Homo sapiens: one gene and its partner. The protein of the gene in region 1 purifies or fractionates together with the protein of each later gene. This does not show direct contact. Each region holds a gene or a part of one and is shown on either strand. Other genes may lie near its edges.

The links. The genes of interacting proteins can lie anywhere in the genome.
Region 2: the proteins of CASP2 (region 1) and PIDD1 purify together in Homo sapiens (affinity purification with western blotting; 5 studies listed by BioGRID and IntAct, with this or other methods). This does not show direct contact.

Annotation. Positions count from the first base shown.
Region 1 is NC_000007.14:143,305,208-143,308,833, forward strand, and holds the end of CASP2 (caspase-2 isoform 1 preproprotein), read left to right. Parts: 3' UTR 1-2,489; downstream 2,490-3,626. UniProt on the Homo sapiens protein: Is a regulator of the cascade of caspases responsible for apoptosis execution. Might function by either activating some proteins required for cell death or inactivating proteins necessary for cell survival.
Region 2 is NC_000011.10:798,294-802,621, reverse strand, and holds the end of PIDD1 (p53-induced death domain-containing protein 1), read left to right. Parts: intron 1-24; coding exon 25-79; intron 80-225; coding exon 226-427; intron 428-531; coding exon 532-657; intron 658-997; coding exon 998-1,177; intron 1,178-1,256; coding exon 1,257-1,404; intron 1,405-1,501; coding exon 1,502-1,637; coding exon of another isoform or gene 1,638-1,709; coding exon 1,710-1,860; intron 1,861-1,955; coding exon 1,956-2,079; intron 2,080-2,170; coding exon 2,171-2,289; intron 2,290-2,377; coding exon 2,378-2,491; intron 2,492-2,607; coding exon 2,608-2,807; intron 2,808-3,056; coding exon 3,057-3,315; 3' UTR 3,316-3,438; downstream 3,439-4,328. UniProt on the Homo sapiens protein: Component of the DNA damage/stress response pathway that functions downstream of p53/TP53 and can either promote cell survival or apoptosis.

The sequences.
Region 1 (3,626 bases):
GCCCATCATCTCTGCCTTTGAGTGTGGGACTCCAGGCCAGCTCCTTTTCTGTGAAGCCCTTTGCCTGTAGAGCCAGCCTTGGTTGGACCTATTGCCAGGAATGTTTCAGCTGCAGTTGAAGAGCCTGACAAGTGAAGTTGTAAACACAGTGTGGTTATGGGGAGAGGGCATATAAATTCCCCATATTTGTGTTCAGTTCCAGCTTTTGTAGATGGCACTTTAGTGATTGCTTTTATTACATTAGTTAAGATGTCTGAGAGACCATCTCCTATCTTTTATTTCATTCATATCCTCCGCCCTTTTTGTCCTAGAGTGAGAGTTTGGAAGGTGTCCAAATTTAATGTAGACATTATCTTTTGGCTCTGAAGAAGCAAACATGACTAGAGACGCACCTTGCTGCAGTGTCCAGAAGCGGCCTGTGCGTTCCCTTCAGTACTGCAGCGCCACCCAGTGGAAGGACACTCTTGGCTCGTTTGGGCTCAAGGCACCGCAGCCTGTCAGCCAACATTGCCTTGCATTTGTACCTTATTGATCTTTGCCCATGGAAGTCTCAAAGATCTTTCGTTGGTTGTTTCTCTGAGCTTTGTTACTGAAATGAGCCTCGTGGGGAGCATCAGAGAAGGCCAGGAAGAATGGTGTGTTTCCCTAGACTCTGTAACCACCTCTCTGTCTTTTTCCTTCCTGAGAAACGTCCATCTCTCTCCCTTACTATTCCCACTTTCATTCAATCAACCTGCACTTCATATCTAGATTTCTAGAAAAGCTTCCTAGCTTATCTCCCTGCTTCATATCTCTCCCTTCTTTACCTTCATTTCATCCTGTTGGCTGCTGCCACCAAATCTGTCTAGAATCCTGCTTTACAGGATCATGTAAATGCTCAAAGATGTAATGTAGTTCTTTGTTCCTGCTTTCTCTTTCAGTATTAAACTCTCCTTTGATATTATGTGGCTTTTATTTCAGTGCCATACATGTTATTGTTTTCAACCTAGAAACCTTTATCCCTGCTTATCTGAAACTTCCCAACTTCCCTGTTCTTTAAGACTTTTTTTTTTTTTTTTTTTTTTTTTGAGACAGAGTCTCGCTCTGTCGCCCAGGCTGGAGGGCAGTGGCACGATCTCAGCTCACTGCAAGCTCCAACTCCCGGGTTCACGCCATTCTCCTGCCTCAGCCTTCCAAGTAGCTGGGACTACAGGTGCCCGCCACCGTGCCCGGCTAATTTTTTTGTATTTTTAGTAGAGACAGGGTTTCACCATGTTAGCCGGGATGGTCTTGATCTCCTGACCTCATGATCCACCCACCTCAGCCTCCCAAAGTGTTGGGATTACAGGCGTGAGCCACTGCGCCCGGGCAAGACCTTTTTTTAAAAAAAAAAAAAAAAAAACTTCCATTCTTTCTTCCTCCAGTCTGTTCTCACATAACAGAGTAGTTTTGGTTTTTAATTTTTTTTGGTTGTTTGCTGTTTTTTGTTTTTTAAGGTGAGTTCTCACTATGTTTCTCAGACTGGTCTCGAACTCCTGGCCTCAAGCCATCTTCCCGCCTCAGCCTCTCAAATAGCTGGGCTTACAGGCATGAGCCACCACACCTGGCCAGGATTTGGTTGTTTAAATATAAATCTGATCACCCCCCTGCTTAGAACCCTTCTGCTTTCTATTACCCCTCATTTAAAATGTAAACTCTTCACCTTGGTTTATGAGAACTGGTTCTTGCCTTCCCCTTGAACCTCATTAAATGGTGATTTCTTGCTAAGCTCCAGCCCGAGTGGTCTCCTCTCAGCTTCTAATTTTGTGCTCTTTCCTGCCCTTTTCCTGGGCCTTCTCAGCTCTCCACCCCCACCACTCTTGACTCAGGTGGTGTCCTTCTTCCTCAAGTCTTGACAATTCCCGGGCCCTTCAGTCCCTGAGCAGTCTACTTCTGTGTCTGTCACCACATCTTGTCTTTTCCCCTCATTGCATTTATTGCAGTTTATATATATGCTACTTTTACTTGTTCATTTCTGTCTCCCCTACCAGGCTGTAAATGAGGGCAGAAACCTTGTTTGTTTTATTCACCATCATGTACCAAGTGCTTGGCACATAGTGGGCCTTCATTAAATGTTTGTTGAATAAAAGAGGGAAGAAGGCAAGCCAACCTTAGCTACAATCCTACCTTTTGATAAAATGTTCCTTTTGACAATATACACGGATTATTATTTGTACTTTGTTTTTCCATGTGTTTTGCTTTTATCCACTGGCATTTTTAGCTCCTTGAAGACATATCATGTGTGAGATAACTTCCTTCACATCTCCCATGGTCCCTAGCAAAATGCTAGGCCTGTAGTAGTCAAGGTGCTCAATAAATATTTGTTTGGGTGGTTTGTGAGCCTTGCTGCCAAGTCCTGCCTTTGGGTCGACATAGTATGGAAGTATTTGAGAGAGAGAACCTTTCCACTCCCACTGCCAGGATTTTGTATTGCCATCGGGTGCCAAATAAATGCTCATATTTATTACTGATGTGTGCTCAATATCTGTTTCTGTAGATACTCAGTCCTCTGAAGCCCACAGATTTCGTTTCCTTAGCCCCTTACACTGCAGCATTCCTTACCACCTCACAAGGCATACCCAGACCTGAAAACCCTTCTTATTTTGCTGCTGTGATCCTGTAAATATATGCAGGTGTGGGCCCATCTCAGTTTGCGTAGTCCTGGGATTTCTCACAGATGAAATGGAAGTTATTAGCAAACAGTGCTGGTTCTTGATTATTTAGACTATGAGATGTAGGCTGCCATAACAGATTGGGCTGGAATAGAAGGATGGGAGAGTGAAGATAGTAAAATTCCATTTCTTACCTGGTTGCATTTAAGGTCTTCTAGAGTGGGCATAGATTGTAAGAGAATTCTAGTGCAGCATAGAAGAGATCAAAGCAATGAATTTGTGTAAGTTGGGATATTTTGGGGGTGCATTGTATCTAAAGGATATGCCTGAGAGGTAAGTGCAGGTGCAGATGGGCCATGGAATTTGGCAAGAGATGGAATGTTCTGTAGGAACTTTGTACAGAAGTTTTGGTAGGAAACAAAACTTTTTTTTTTAAATACGGGATTTCACCATGTTGGCCAGGCTGGTCTCTAACTCCTGGCCTCAAGTGATCAGCCCGCTTCGGCCTCCCAAAGTGCTAGGATTATAGGTATGAGCCACCTATAACAAACCAGAAACAAAACTTTTTTGTTTGGTAGGAAACAGCTGTGGGAGCTGGAAATATTGTTGAGTCATACAGAGAAGGGTATGGCAGTCTAGGAAGAGCAGAAGGGGATTGAGGTGAGCTGAAGCACCTCGGCAGATAGAGCAGAATTTGGTACAGAACACTGGAGACAAAAGGGCATGAAAAATGGACTGAAACTGGTTGGTTGTACTGCAAGAAAAACAACCATGGGATAGCCTCAAGGGAAGGATACAAAATCTAGGACAGGCGAAGAAATTATGGAAATAGTGGAAGTAAGATAAATACCCATTTTCAGGATAGGAAGCATTTTCAGTGGTGTGATATGTTTGAGAATTACAGAGCAGTATCTCTGAACTGGATTCCATGTCCTCCCCGCCCCCCAACCCCCTTGCCCTTGAATAAGGGTATGAGGTTGAATTTCACAGCTCTGC
Region 2 (4,328 bases), on another chromosome or scaffold:
AGCACATGTCTGTCCCCTGCACAGTGGCAGCCCTCATTCCAGAAATGCCCAGACTGTTCCTGACCTCAGATTTGGACAGGTATGGGGTGGGTTGAGGGGGCTGGAGGGGAGTCTGTCTGCCTGTCACTCTGGCCCCTCCGACACCTTCTCCAGAGTTCCTGGGTCCAGGCTCCAACACGTAGGCCCTTCTGGGTCTAACCTGTTGCTCGCTCCTTCCTCACTCAGCTTTCCTGTGACCCCTCAAGGCTGCTCAGTGACCCTGGCCTGTGGCGTCCGCCTGCAGTTCCCAGCGGGAGCCACCGCCACCCCCATCACCATCCGCTATCGGCTGCTGCTGCCGGAGCCAGGCCTCGTCCCCCTGGGTCCTCATGACGCCCTGCTCAGCCATGTGCTGGAGCTGCAGCCCCATGGGGTGGCCTTCCAGCAGGCATGGACAGGGCGTGGCGGGGGCAGTGTGTGGGCCAGGGCATGGCAGGGGCAGTGTGCGGGCCCGGGCATGGCTCCAGTGCTCACACCATCCTTGTCTGGCAGGATGTGGGGCTGTGGCTGCTCTTCACCCCACCGCAGGCCCGGCGCTGCCGTGAAGTGGTGGTCAGGACCCGGAATGACAACAGCTGGGGTGACCTGGAGACCTACCTGGAGGAAGAGGCACCCCAGGTGAGGGCCACCCAGGCCTGCCGGTGGCGAGTGGAGAGCTGCTGCCCTGAGCCGTGCACCTCTGCCCAGAGCCTCACCCTGGCACCTTCCACCCTGCCCCGTCCCTCCTGGATCCTGCTTCCCTATGTCCCTGGCACCTTCCACCCCACCCCGTCCCTCCTGGATCCTGCTTCCCTGTGTCCCTGGCAACTTCCACCCCACCCCGTCCCTCCTGGATCCTGCTCCCTGTGTCCCTGGCACCTTCCACCCCGCCCCGTCTCTCCTGGATCCTGCTCCCTGTGTCCCTGACTGGCTGTGCCCTGACCCAGGCTCCTGTGACCTCCTCTCTCCCCCATCCCAGCGGCTCTGGGCTCACTGCCAGGTGCCCCACTTCTCCTGGTTCCTTGTGGTTTCCCGCCCTGTGTCCAATGCCTGCCTGGTGCCACCGGAGGGGACACTGCTGTGCTCCTCGGGTCATCCTGGGGTCAAAGTCATCTTCCCCCCTGGGGCCACTGAGGAGCCTCGTCGAGTCTCCATGCAGGTATGGCCAGGACAGCACTGAGGGTGGCAGGCCGCGCCTCAGCCCACAGGCAGGTGCTCAGGGGGCCTGTCTGCCCCAGGTGGTGCGCATGGCTGGCCGAGAGCTGCAGGCCCTCCTGGGAGAACCAGAGGCTGCAGTGAGCCCCCTGCTGTGCCTGTCACAGAGCGGTCCCCCCAGCTTCCTCCAACCGGTCACCGTGCAGCTGCCTCTGCCCTCTGGCATCACAGGTGAGAGGCAGCCATGGGGCATACCTGGACCTGTGGCCATAGGGTGGAGGGGGTCTCCGGCCAGGAGGCCTCAGCTCGCTGCCCCTCCCATCCCCAGGCCTCAGTCTGGACCGCTCCCGCCTGCACCTGTTGTACTGGGCCCCTCCTGCAGCCACCTGGGATGACATCACAGCTCAGGTGGTCCTGGAGCTCACCCACCTGTACGCACGCTTCCAGGTCACACACTTCTCCTGGTCAGTGCCCCCCAGCTTTCTCAGCCCCCCTCCCCCAGTCTGTACAGCCCTCCTCACCCCCAGCTCTCCCAGGTACTGGCTCTGGTACACCACCAAGAACTGTGTGGGAGGCCTGGCTCGGAAGGCCTGGGAGCGGCTGCGGCTGCACCGTGTGAACCTCATCGCTCTGCAGCGGCGCCGGGACCCTGAGCAGGTCCTGCTGCAGTGCCTGCCCCGAAACAAGGTGGGGGCACGGGCCGGAGGGCAGCAGGGTGGTGACCAGAGGGCTGGGGTGGGGTGCAGAGCTTTGGGTCCTGAGCTGCACGGGCTTCCCCGCAGGTGGACGCCACCCTTCGGCGGCTGCTGGAGCGGTACCGGGGCCCCGAGCCCTCTGACACGGTGGAGATGTTCGAGGGCGAAGAGTTCTTTGCGGCCTTCGAGCGCGGCATCGACGTGGATGCTGGTAGGGATGCTGGTGGATGCTCCCTGCCCTGGAGGGGGAGCCTTACCGTCCTCCCCGAGCCCTCCTTGCTCAGCCCACCCCTGTCCCCTAGACCGCCCTGACTGTGTGGAGGGCAGAATCTGCTTTGTCTTCTACTCGCACCTGAAGAATGTGAAGGAGGTATACGTGACCACCACTCTGGACCGGGAGGCTCAGGCTGTGCGGGGCCAGGTGGGCGAGGGGAGTGGGTGAGGGGAGAGGCCCCCCAGGCCGCTTGGGCAGAGGACCGAACTCCGAACCCCATTCGATGCCCCTTCAGGTGTCCTTCTACCGTGGCGCGGTGCCTGTGCGGGTGCCCGAGGAGGCTGAGGCTGCCCGGCAGAGGAAGGGCGCAGACGCCCTGTGGATGGCCACTCTGCCCATCAAGCTGCCGGTGGGACTGAGGGACAGCAGAGGGGCGGGGCAGGACCGAGGCCCAGGGGTGACCAGGGTGACATGGTGGAGTTGGGGGTGGAGCCCAGGGCTTAATGCACTTTTTCCTTCCAACAGAGACTTCGAGGGTCCGAGGGGCCACGGCGGGGGGCTGGCCTCTCCTTGGCACCCTTGAATCTGGGAGATGCCGAGACCGGCTTTCTGACGCAGAGCAACCTGCTGAGTGTGGCTGGGCGTCTGGGTCTGGACTGGCCAGCCGTGGCCCTGCACCTGGGGGTGTCCTACCGGGAGGTGCAGCGCATCCGGCACGAGTTCCGGTGAGGCTCCCACTGCCCGCTGGCTGCCAGCCCCAGGGCTGAGCCCTGGCTGCCTGGAGGGCCCACCTGATTCTGACAGAAGTTTCTTCCAGGGGAGGTGGGGGAAGGGCAAACACCAGGCTGGAAAGGAAAGGTCTGGCCGCACCTGGCCCCAGGAGCCGGGAACTCCCCCACACTCCGAGGCAGAGTGTGGTGGGGGGTCCTGGGCAGGTGGACAGGACCCCTCTGTCGCCCATCCTCTGCCTGCAGGGATGATCTGGATGAGCAGATCCGTCACATGCTCTTCTCCTGGGCTGAGCGCCAGGCTGGGCAGCCAGGGGCTGTGGGGCTCCTGGTGCAGGCCCTGGAGCAGAGTGACCGGCAGGACGTGGCTGAAGAGGTGCGCGCAGTCTTGGAGCTCGGCCGCCGCAAGTACCAGGACAGCATCCGACGCATGGGCTTGGCCCCCAAGGACCCCGCTCTGCCTGGCTCCTCGGCTCCACAGCCCCCAGAGCCTGCCCAGGCCTAGGCCCCACAGACTTTTAGGCTGGCCCAGATATTCCCCAGTGGATGGGCAGAGCCCCCACCTTCAAGTCTCTCCAGTGTGTGGGGACGGGTCCCTGTGAGCAACAAAACTGCACTGTTTCTTTCACCTCAGAGCTTGATTTATTTGTTGGATGGAGAAGCCGTTGGAGGGCGGAGGGTGGTGGGGTAGAGGCCTGGCCCCTGCGGGGAGGGAGGCCTGTGTGCACAGGTGCCCCACATCCTGGTCCTGTCCTCTCCCACTGTGCCTGGGGCCTCCTGTGGGTCCTCATCTTCCTGGGAGGGAGGAGCTGTGCTACAAAGTAACCCACATGGGCTACTTTTTTTTTTTTTTTAAATGGAGTTTCTGTCACCCAGGCTGGAGTGCAGTGGCATGATCTCAGCTCACTGCAACCTCTGCCTCCCAGGTTCAAGCGATTCTGCGTCACCCTCTCAAGTAGCTGGGACTAGGGCACTTGCCACCACGCTGGCTAATTTTTGTATTTTTAGTAGACGGGGTTTCACCATGTTGGCCAGGCTGGTCTCGAACTCCTGACCTTAAGTGATCCGCCTGCCTCGGCCTCCAAAAGTGCTGGGATTGCAGGTGTGAGCCACTGCGCCCAGCCCCAAGTGGGGTGCTTTGGATACAAAGTCGCTGTTCGGCGGGTGGGGTTGTGCCTCCACTTCTCCATTGCGCTGGCCCAGCAGTTCCACGGATCACCTGTGTCTGCCCTGGAGGCCACGCCTCCCCCAGGGCACCCTCATCCACCGGCGCTCTGCCACCTGCCCGCGCCCCGCGGGTCCTTGTGCCTGCAGGGGCCTGAGGCCCGGAAACCAAGAAAGGACCTTGGGGACGCGCGGCCCGGCCTCTGCGCGCAGAACTGCCACCCTGCCCGGGGGAACCCACGGCCAGGGGGCGGGTGGGCGCGTGGCTGTGGCCTGGCTGGGCGCAGTAGCCTCGACGGCCAGGAGGGGGAGCCGAAGCCCGGAGGAGGCCGAGGGCGGAGCGCGCGCGGCGCC